Linked DNA regions of Homo sapiens. The protein of the gene in region 3 purifies or fractionates together with the protein of the main gene of each other region. This does not show direct contact. Each region holds a gene or a part of one and is shown on either strand. Other genes may lie near its edges.

Region 1 (4,378 bases), on a different chromosome or scaffold from region 3:
CTACATCAAGCTAATTAATATATGCATTACTTCATATAGCTGTGAAGACACTTGAAATCTACTGTTTTAGCATGTTTCATTTCTTTCATATCGTAATCCAATTAGTTTTGACCCAATTTTTCTCTGTCTCTTGAAGTCTTGGCCTCAAGTGATCCTTCTGCCTCGGCCTCCCAAAGTGCTGGAATTAAAAGCATGAGCCACCACACCTGGCCCTCTATCCCTGATAGTGTGTAAGGCAGCCATTTGGGGTCTGAACTACATTCAAAGAACCTTCAGACGTGAAGTATGATATTAAAGTAGCAGTAATTTTACCTCTGTGTCACACAAAATACTGTGAAAATAGAAATACAATAGTTTGCATCTTAAATGAATAACAAACCTGCTTCCAGCACTTTAGTGAGATCAAAAGTGGGCATAATACCCTCCCTGACATCAGGACCATCTCCAGGCTCATCCTCTATCTTAAGCAGAGCCAGTTCCTGTTGAAAAGCTTCCATGTCAGGCCCTTAAAAGATAAAAAGGTCATCAATTTACAAATTAAAACATGAACTATGAACGAGGAAATGATAGTATTTATTCCCTCATCATTATGAAATAAAAACCGGTAGGCTAATTATTTCAGGAATCTGCTGCCAGGAAAACAGGAAAGCAGAGATATTCGAACATTGCCCTTTTCTTTCCCAAGGCTGGCCCTAGACAACTTACTTGTCCCTTTTATACTCATTTGTTCTTATTCTTATCACATTAAATCAGCCATTTGTTTGAGTCAGTCTGACTAGACTATGAGCTTTAGGCAAAAATTTGGCACTGACATCTCCAGCACTTAGTATATTACGTGGTATGAGGAAGCATCAATAAAGGTGTGTTAAAAAGTTTCTTAAAAAATACATGACGTGTCCACAGATGGCAGACTAGGAAGCTGCAAGCTGCCATTCTTCCACAGCAACAAAAAACAGAAAATGGCTGAACAAAGCATACAGGAGCTCTGGAAAAAGGTTTATGGCAACCATGAAAATACCCAATCAATAAAAAGCCTCCATCAAAGTGGTAGGAAAGCTTAGTGGCTTTTTATGCATCCTTGTCCCACCCCTCCACACAGCAGCAGTAGGAAATGTTTAAGATTCCTTCCTAATGCTTTCTGTCCTCCTGTTACTGGTATGTCATAAAATACAATGCATAAATAGACCTCCACCACCCATAAGCATTATTTTCCACTCTCCCTTCACCTTGAAAAGCAGGCACTGCTTGATTTTCAATCTCCCCACTAGGTGCAATACCCTGATTATCAGTTGGTGGTTCCTCTTCTTGACGTTTTTCCTCAGTGGGCTCCTGGACCTAAGGGTGTAAGTGTGTGTGTGAATAAAAAGTCAATAATATAAATACACAAATGCATATGTGCATCGAATCACACATCTAAAGACATTTTTCCAACATATATAAACACATACACACACATATAGATAGATAGATGATAGATAGATAGATAGATAGATAGATAGATAGATAGACAGACAGACAGATACATACATAGAGATAGAGAGAGAGAGAGAAATATCCATATCCATACAGGTAACACCAGAATATAGTATTCCTGAACCAAAGTTTCCTTCATGAGATGCCATCATCATTTTTTATCAGCATGGAACACCTGTATCAGTGTATGTATACTAGCTCAAAAATATTTTTAAAATAAATTGTGTTAATAGAAAACATCAAATGTTAAAAGACTCACAATCACAGATCCAACCGGCTGGGAAGACTCTTGGTCATTTCCTCTTTCTGAGGATTGGGATCTTGCTCTTAGAAGCTCACTCATATTTCCCACTGCAAACAGAATATTGTTATTTGGAAAAAGTGTGTAAGAACTTAGTTATATATATGAACATTCCACGGCAAAATGGTGATTTGTACTTTTTTAATTTTGAAAATATTTTCAAATTAAGTCACAGAGCAATGATAAGTACACATGCTTTCGAATCAAACTAAGGACAGATTTGTTTGTATCATAGTCGAAGAGGCATAGAAATCCCCTTAACGCCATAGCAAAAGACAGAGGACATTTCTGCGTTTTGGTTTCACAATTAGACTCTCCATCATGAAGACATTTAGGAAAAAACGGGCAGAGAATTGAAACTGAAATGACTACTGCTTTTGTCCCACTCTGATTTGCTAGGCCCATTTCACCCCCACACCCCTCTCAAAATCAAGTCTTGTTGGAAAGCACAGCCTCGCCCATTCCTTCCTATGATGTCCATGGCGGAGGTGAGAAATTGTGAAACAGAGTGAACGTTATGCTCCTCACAGGACACCTCTGCCAGGCACTCTACAGACCTCGGGGCCACAGTCACCAGCCCACCGCGCTCCCAGTTCCCAAGCCCCTTCGTTACTGACCACACGGTCCCTTCCCGCGTCCCTACTGAGGAGTTTGGAAACTGTCCTCTCTCAGAGGGTTCCAGGAGTTTTCGAGACTCAAACACCGCTAACTGCACCCCCAGCACTTGCCCCATCTTCAGGCAATCCCTCCCCTCTGCGGCCCACCTTCCTCCCTCATCCCAGCCCAGTCAGGACAAGTCCCATGGTGGCGTCGCGACCTGGGAGGAGCTGGATGACGGCCCCGAGGCCCTTTTCCCTCAGAAGCCACAGACTGTGCCGCAGGACCTGTCCAAAGCCAGCTGGCTCCTCCACACATTCTCTCACAACTAAATTCCCAGTAACACCGTTCTGCAGACCTACCGGCTGAGTCTTGGTCAGTGAGAAAGAATCAAGATGGCGGAAAGAATGAAGACACTCTCTCTCCTTGCAGACCTCTGTGCGGACACAAGACGGGCAGCAAGGCGCCTGCGCAACAACAGACACGCATAGCAACAGACATGGGCACCAACAGGTCTGTGCAGCATGCGCACTGAGTGGGGTATTCGCCTCGTGACTGAAGTTTTCCTGCCTCTGTGGAGTAAACCACCAGCGCTCCTGACAACGAAAATGAACTTGCAAAGCACTTTTCTTTTTTCCCCGCCCACCCTTTCTTTCACTTCCAGTGGCGTTAGAGAATATGAGCCTCAGGTTACTCTAATAATGTGTTTCAGAAAAATTCACCATCATAGAAATAAATCTTAAATATTTTAATACCTGTTTTATATACGCTTCCATAAATCATTTTCTTGCCTCCTTCACGAGTTTGCTGTCATGCTTGCAATGGTCTCACCCACTGCAATATCATAAGACATTCATAGTTTTTGGTTGCATTATTGTACGTTCAAAATCTTTGATCCATCTGGACAAAATTAAAGTGGTAGGAACTCAACATTATTTGTTGAATCCCTGTTTCACCCACTGTTTTGAAATGGCTCTTATCATCACCTACATCCCCACTCAATTTTGTATGTAACTCTCTTCTTTTAATTTTCTTCCATTGAGTTGTTTATACCTGTACCACTACTACACTATTTTAATTGCTGTAGCTTAATTATATTTGAAATGTGAAATAATGCTTGCCCTCCCTCATTGATTTCTCCTTTTCTATCAATTCTGACACGTTGGTCTTTCAGATGAACTTCAGAATCATTTGATCAGGTGCTAAAATATTACTGTTGAGACACTAGTTATTATTTTTATATTACATGTTAACTCTGGGACAATAGCCATCTTTCTATTTTAGAATCTCTCTATCAAAAAAAAAAAGCCACTCCTCAATTCCTCAAGTCTTTTAACATATCCCACACAATGATTGTGTTATTTGCTTCATATTAGTTCTTCACATTCAAATTAAATTTATTCATGGGCACTTTTATTTTTCTATTCCATTGCTGACACGTGTTTGCTTCTACTCCACTATGTTTTTCACACAAGTCAAACAATCTGTTTGGAAACCATGTGATTCTATACCTAGAAAATCCCAGAATCTCTGCCCAAAAGCTCCTTGATCTTATAAACAACTTCAGGAAAGCTTCAAGATACAAAATTAATGTATAAAAACCAGAAGTGTTTCTGTACACCAACTACCTTCAAGCGCAGAGCCAAATCAGAAACACAATCCCATTCACAATTGCCACAAAAAAAAAAAATAAAATACCTAGGAATACAGCTAACGAGGGAGGAGAACAATCTCTACTATGAGAACTACAAAACACTGCTCAAAGAAATCAGAGATGACACAAACAAATGGAAAAACATTTCATGCTCGTGAACAGGAATAAGCAATACTGGCAAAATGGCCTAATTGACCAAAGCAATTCATACATTCAATGATATTCCTATTAAAGTACCAATGACATTCCTCACAGAATTAGAAAAAAAGTACTTTAAAATTCATATGGAACCAAAAAAGAGCCCAAATAACCAAGGCAATCCTAAGCAATAAGAATGAAGCCAAAAGCATCAT
Region 2 (3,650 bases), on a different chromosome or scaffold from region 3:
ACCAATCAAAATGGCATAAATCTTCCTGCAATATTTTACCATATTCCTGAATGCAGCTTTTTCTACACTCACCTGGGAATGATTGTGATGGAAAGCAAAATGGGCAGTATTTATAAACTAATGATTACAAAAAAAAAAATGCAAAACTCTGGAAAAAAAACAGAGTTAATGAGGATTAGATCACTTTTTAGCATGAAATATTATATGATAAGCTTTACAGGGGCAGTAAGGGAGGGAAGAAATGAACCGTCAGAGCAAGAGACCTATTCACATAAACAAGCACACATGTATCTATGGTAATATTGGGCCCAGTAACCCTCCCCCACCACAGCTGGGGAGTGACCAGCATCATTCATGTGCTCTTTTTTTTTTTCTTTAGAGGAAGGGTCTCGCTCTGTTGTCCAGGCTGGAATGCACTGGTGCAGTAGCTCATTGCAGCCTCAAATTCCTGGGCTCAAGCAATCCTTCTGCCTCAGCCTCTCAAGTAGCTGGGACTACAGGCATGTGCCACAATGCCTGGCTATTTATAATTTTTTTGTAGAGATGGGGTCTCACTATGTTGTACAGGCTGGTCTCGAACTCCTGGCCTCAAGTGAACCTCCCACCTGGGCCTCCCAAAGTGCTGAGATTACACACGTGAGCCAACAGGCTTGGCCATTCAAGTACTGTTTTGTTTTGTTTTGCTTTGTTTTGTTTTGTTAGAGAGAGAGTCTCACCCTGTTGCCCAGACTGGAGTGCAATGGTGCAATCTTGGCTCACCACAACCTCCACCTCACAGACTCAAGTCATTCTCCTGCCTCAGCCTGCCGAGTTACAGGGATTACAGGCACGCACCATTACCACTTGGCTAATTTTTGTACTTTTAGGGTTTCACTATGTTGGCCAGGCTGGTCTTGAACTCCTGACCTCATATGATCCACCCGTCTCGGCCTCCCAAAGTACTGGGATTGCAGACATGAGCCACTGTGCCCAGCCATCCAGGTACTTTTACGACAGATCTATGCAGGCAGACCCAGGCAGCCACTGGGGTGTGACAGGTCCCCACTCCTTACTCTATTCCTGGAAGGGCTCTCTCCTGTCCTGGAGTAGGTCCTGTTTCTGTGTTTGCCCTTGATAATGATGGGGAGAAACTCCCAAGGCATGGAAGTGAGATCACTTTTATTTTTAGCCCTTCTTAATGGTTGTTAACATTTGTGCTGAGCACTTTTCCCAGCCTAAGTGGATGTAAATAACATCTTGTATCCAGTGTGGTATTGACCAGAAGTTATATTTAGTAAATGTAAAGATCCAAGGAGGAAGAATAGAGACCCTTCTTTAGAGGCACTGTATACACTTCGTCTCATAAATGCTTAAAAACTTTTTCGAAAATAACTGTAAAATATTCCATTTGTCTAGCTGGCACCTCTGAGGAGGGTTTAAGATAACACATCCGTTGTAAATGTAAAATCAATTACTGGACAACGGAAGGCGTCCGCAGAGGTGCTTATTGGCCACCTGTGGGGTAGAAGACGGCCTTGTAGTCAGGACTTCTTTCAACAGAAGGTGATGACCTTCAGAGCCACTACAGGATGAACACTCTGTCCAGAATCAGAGCTCCTGGTGAGTAAGCGCTTATTTCTGCAATCATTTACACCTGGATAATGACAGTAAAAGAACATTTAAATTCTCCTGTGATGACTATGAGGTCCTCTCCTAGTTAGGCCTCCATCATTAGATTTAGAAAGGAAAATAATAACAAAAGTTTTGCCAATTCTTCTATTACATAGGATAAATACCTAGCTGGAGGACTTTGCCTTAGATGACGATGGGCAGCATGGGAGAAATCTAACATGTTGTCGATATCATCTTGATAATGTGTCAGTTAGTGCATGCACTTATATGCACATACCCACAGACCACTACCAACCACCCATGAAGTGCAAATTCTTATTTTTATCTTTATCTGTAACAGAGGTAAATGAATCTTTTGAATGCCATATAGGTAGAAATGACAGTGTTAAAACCTGAATTCAATTCTCTTTAACCCTAAATTCTGGGGTTTTAACCCCTAGATATACTGCCCTTAAGAAACTTCCAAACAGAATCTAGACCATTAGACCAAGTCCAAAAACTGCCCATGACAGAGTTCAGTAAAATCTGTAATTACTGAGCACACAAAGGGTAGTATAGGAAATGGAAGCAGGAGAAATTAGATTATTATCTTTATTTCTTATCAAGGAAGAGAAAACCATATAGAATCAATGAGCGTATTCTGTTGCATTTAGATCTGATATTGAACTAGGCAGGTGGGCAATGATAAGAACCACACTGGACTTGCTAATTAGCTTGTCCTGACAGAAATTAAGCAGCAAGTAAGGAATTTCTCCGAATTTTTTTTTCATTTGTAAAGTGAAGGGATCAGACCATCTCTGAGATATCCTCCAGCTATTACATTCTCACATTAGCACGGCTTGTATTTTCAGCTGCCCTGATTCTCCTCCTTGAAACTTGGGGCAGGTTGTTCTGGCAAAAACAGAAAACACACATTAAAAAATACCTTTGATGACCAGCAGAGGGCAGGGTGAGTTGGGTGTGGAATTTAGAGGAGGGCTCCAGGGGCAGTTTCTAGAAGGTTTGTAGTCCTGGTCCAAACGGTGGCTCACGCCTGTAATCCCAGCACTTAGGGAGGTCGAGGTGGGTGGATCACGAGGTTAAGAGATCGAGACAATCCTGGCCAACATGGTGAAACCCCGTATCTACTAAAAATACAAAAATTAGCTGAGTGTGGTGGTGGGAGCCTATAATCCCAGCTACTTGGGAGGCTGAGGCAGCAGAATTGCTTGAACCCGGGAGGCGGAGGTTGCAGTGAGCCGAGATCACACCACTGCACTCCAGCCTGACGACAGGCTCAAAATAAAAAAAAAAAAAGAATATTTGTAGTCCTCTGGGTTCTGCACTTGGTCTGTGCACTTCCTGCCTGCCCGTTCTTTCACTAAGTCCAGAAATGCGGTAAGATAGGGAAGAGCTTCTGCCATAGACAGCACTGATGCTGTCGTCCATAGAAAACAACTTCCTTCCTTTCTGTCCCCACTCCTCCCCTCCCACAACCCCCAACACCCATATTCACATGTACACCCTTAATTTCCTTACTCATCTGGGTCAAGGTGAGAGAAGAGAGTTGAGAGCTCTTCCCACGTGCACTGTAGTCACTGCCTAGACCATAAGCTCTGTGAGACACACTGCTGTGTTCCCTGCTCTGTCTCTAGCACCTAGAACCATGCCGGGCACATAGAAGGCACTGATATATATTTGTCACTGACTTTGTTTCCATTCTAAGGGGCTCCACCCTGAGCAGACTGTAAGCACTATACGGGCAAGAGGATCCCCATGGTCACAAATCTTTGGATTTTCATCATTTGGTAAAATGAGACACACTGGCACCAAGTAGATATTTGGGGAAAGCTAAAACTGATCAAAGTGCAATTGAATATGCAGAACAAGATAAGAGTCAAAGATGGCTCAGACAAGAAAATATTCCAGAATTATTTTTAAAAATAGTATACAGCTCAGCATATACTCTTGAAGCTGACTGTGATCTGCAATCCTTTCATCATTAGTTTATTTTTTAATAATGAGAAGTAGCAGACTTCACTAAAAATCACACATCTTTG
Region 3 (3,650 bases):
CTTGGTTTAGGAAGGGGAGGGGGGGTCTAGTTAAAACAATTTTACGGAAGTAAAGTAGTCAAAAAGTTAAAAGGACAAATGGTTACAGGAAAGTAAACAGTTCCAGGTGCAGGGGCTTTAAGACTATTACAAGGTGATAGATCCGGGGCTTTGGGCGTTTATCAATCGGACGAATTCCTGGGAACTGCGGATATAGCTTGCCACAGTATCTTATCAGTTAATTGCATTCTTGGATGTGCTAGGAGTCAGCTTGCACAAGTTAAGTCCTTGAGGAAGGGGCTGCCAGTGAAAGAGCCAAGATGGAGTCTCTCTGGCTCTCTTAGCTAAGGGAGAGTCAATTCAGGTGGAAACAAGACTAGGTGATTAAGGGAAAAGGGAGAGTCTAAAAACAGAGTTAGTAAATACCAGGTTGGGCATTACAGCCTCCCAAAGTGTTGGGATTATAGGTGTGAGCCACTGCTTCTATCCTAAGAATGTTCTTTTCTTTTTCCTTTTTTTTTTTTTTTTTTGGAGTCAGGGACTCTGTCACCCAGGCCGGGAGTATAGTGGCATGATGATAACCCACTGCAACCTTGAACGCCTGAGCTCAAACAATCCTTCTGGCTCAGCTTCCCCAGTAGGTGCGACTACAGGACTACACACACATGCCACCACACCCAGCTTTTTTTTTTTTTTTTTTTTTTGTAGAGATGTGTTTCACTGTGTTGCCCAGACTAATCTGGAAATCCTGGGTTCAAGAAATCCTCCGGCTTAGGCCTCCCAAAGTGTTAGGATTATAGGCACGAGCCACCTCACCCAGGTGTTTAATTTACTACCACGCACTTAAAATTAAAAATAATATAATAATAAAAAGGCAGCCAGACACGGTGGCTCACGCCTGTAATCCCAGCACTTTGGGAGGCCGAGGTGGGCAGATCACGAGGTCAAGAGATTGAGACCATCCTGGCCAACATGGTGAAACCCCGTCTCTACTAAAAATACAAAAATTAGCTGGGCATGGTGGCGTGTGCCTGCAGTCCTGGCTACTCAGGAGGCTGAGGCAGGAGAATTGTTTGCACCTGGGAGGAGGAGGTTGCAGTGAGCCGAGATGGCGCCACTGCACTCCAGCCTGTCAACAGAGTGAGACTTCATCTCAAAAAAAAAAAGTCATTTTCATTCAAGAATGTCCTTAGGGCTAGGTGCAGTAGCTCACACCTGTAATCCCAGCACTTTGGGAGGCCAAGGCAGGACGATTGCTTAAGGCCAGGATTTCAAGATCAGCCTAGGCAACACGACAAGACCCCATCTCTATAAAAAATAACATAATTAGCTAGGTGTAGTAGCCAGGCATAGACAGTAGTCCCATCTACTCAGGAGGCTGAGGTGGGAGAACAGCTTGAGCCTAGGAGCTCAAGCTTGCAGTGAGCCATGACAGCGCCACTATACTCCAGCCTGGGAGACAGAGGGAGACCCTTTCTAGCATACAGTTTGGTGCTGCTGTCTCAATTTGTACTAAAGGGCCAAGAGATTTTGTTTTTGCTTTTTCTTTCACAGACAGAGTCTTGCTATGTAGCCCAGGATGGAGTGCAGTGGGGGCAATTATAGCTCCAAAAGATAGAGCCCAGCCTTACTCTGTAGCCCAGGATAGAGTGCAGTGGTACAATTATAGCTCCAAAAGACCAAGCCGAGTCTCAAACTCCTGGGTTCAAGTGATGCTCCCACCTCAGCCTCTGGAGTAGCTGGGACTACAGGCTGGGGCCAGTTTTACCAACCACTGATTTTGTACCACCAGTACAAATATCAACACAGTGAAAACAATAACACCTCAGTATTATTATGAAAATAGTTTTGACATCACAGACCCTCTGGAAGGATATAGGGAACCCCAGGAATACAGAGATTACATTTTGAGAACTATTATACTACTTATACAAGTGTACTCAGTTTCTGAAAATTCACTTATGACACGGGCACTCTTCTATAAGTACATCATACTTCAATAAAAGATGTATTTTGGCTGGGTGCAGTGCCTCACGTCTGTACTCCCAGCACTTTGGCAGGCCAAGGCAGACAGATCATCTGAGGTCAGGAATTCGAGACCAGCCTGGCCAACATGGTGAAACTCCATCACTACTAAAAATGAAAAATTAGCTGGGTATGATGGTGCACGCCTGTAATCCCAGCTACTCAAGAGGCTGAGGTTGGAGGATCACTTGAGTCCAGGAGGCAGAGGTTGTAGTGAGTCAAAGTCGCACCACTGCACTACTCCAGCTTGGGTGACAGAATGAGACTGTCTCAGGGAAAAAAAAAAAGATTTTTTTTTCTTGGTATCTAATTCCAGGTTATTCAATTAAAGTTTTTTATTTTATTATTATTTTTTTTTGAGAAAGAGTCTCACTCTGTTGCCCAGGCTGGAGTGCAGTGGTGCAATCTCGGCTCACTGCAAGCTCCGCCTCCCGGGTTCACGCCATTCTCCTGCCTCAGCCTCCCGAGTAGCTGGGACTACAGGCGCCCGCCACCTCGCCCGGCTAATTTTTTTGTATTTTTAGTAGAGACAGGGTTTCACCATGTTAGCCAGGATGGCCTCAATCTCCTGACCTCGTGATCCGCCGGCCAAAAGTTCTATTTTCAAATGTATAAAAAAAAAATTAGGAAAATTATTTTAAAATCTCAGTGGACAAGGCATTCCCTGAGTATGACTTCTTATCTTAGAAGCCATAAAAAAAAGGGTTGGCCGGGAGTGGTGGCTCATGCCTGTAACCCCAGCACTTTGGGAGGCTCAGGTGGGCGGATCACTTGAGGTCAGGAGTTCAAGACCATCCTGGCCAGCATGGTGAAACCCTGTCTCTACTAAAAAAAAAACACAAAAATTAGCCGGGTGTGGTGGTGGGCACCTGTAATCCCAGCCATACGGAAGGCTGAGGCAAGAGAATCACTTGAACCCAGGAGGCGGAGGTTGCTGTGAGCTGAGATGGTGCCACTGCACTCCAGCCTGGGAGACAGAGCAAGATACTGTCTCAAAAAAAAAAAAAAAAAAAAAAAAAAAAAAAATGCCAGGCGTGGTGGCTTACGCCTGTAATCCCAGCACTTCGGAGGCCGAGGCGGGCGGATCACCTGAGATTGGAAGTTCGAGATTGGAAGTTCGAGACCACCCTGACCAACATGGAGAAACCCCATCTCTACTAAAAATACAAAATTAGCCAGGCACGGTGGTGCATACCTGTAATCCCAGCTACTCTGTCTCAAAAAAAAAAAAAAAAAAAAATTAGCCAGGTGTGGTGGTGCATGTCTGTAGTCCCAGCTACTCAGGAGGCTGAGGCAGAAGAATTACTTGAACCTGGGGGGCAGAGGTTGCAGTGACTGGAGATCATGCCACTGTACTCCAACCTGGATGACAAAGCGAGACTCTGTCTCAAAAAAAAAAAAAAAAGAAAAGAAAGAAAGGGTCAATGCAGGGGGTCCCCAACCCCCTGGCCAGTACCAGTTGGTGGCCTGTTAGGAACCAGGCAGCACAGCAGGACATGAGCTCACAAAGCTTCTTCTATATTTACAACAGCTCCCCATTGCTAACATTACTGCCTGAGCTCCACTTCCTTTCAGATCAGGCACAGCATTAGATTCTCATAGGAGCTTGAACACTATTGTGAACTGCACATTGAGGGATCTAGGCT

What was found.
Region 1: the proteins of ZBTB8OS (region 3) and PAGE2 purify together in Homo sapiens (affinity purification with mass spectrometry; one large-scale study listed by BioGRID and IntAct). This does not show direct contact.
Region 2: the proteins of ZBTB8OS (region 3) and ATP8A2 fractionate together in Homo sapiens (co-fractionation; one large-scale study listed by BioGRID). This does not show direct contact.

The regions. Positions count from the first base shown.
Region 1 is NC_000023.11:55,087,459-55,091,836, reverse strand, and holds the start of PAGE2 (P antigen family member 2), read right to left. Parts: upstream 2,820-4,378; 5' UTR 2,734-2,819; exon of another isoform or gene 2,592-2,733; intron 1,825-2,591; 5' UTR 1,817-1,824; coding exon 1,733-1,816; intron 1,336-1,732; coding exon 1,227-1,335; intron 506-1,226; coding exon 380-505; intron 1-379.
Region 2 is NC_000013.11:25,374,843-25,378,492, reverse strand, and holds part of ATP8A2 (phospholipid-transporting ATPase IB), read right to left. Parts: intron 1-3,650. UniProt on the Homo sapiens protein: Catalytic component of a P4-ATPase flippase complex which catalyzes the hydrolysis of ATP coupled to the transport of aminophospholipids from the outer to the inner leaflet of various membranes and ensures the maintenance of asymmetric distribution of phospholipids.
Region 3 is NC_000001.11:32,644,044-32,647,693, forward strand, and holds part of ZBTB8OS (protein archease), read right to left. Parts: intron 1-3,650. UniProt on the Homo sapiens protein: Component of the tRNA-splicing ligase complex required to facilitate the enzymatic turnover of catalytic subunit RTCB. Together with DDX1, acts by facilitating the guanylylation of RTCB, a key intermediate step in tRNA ligation.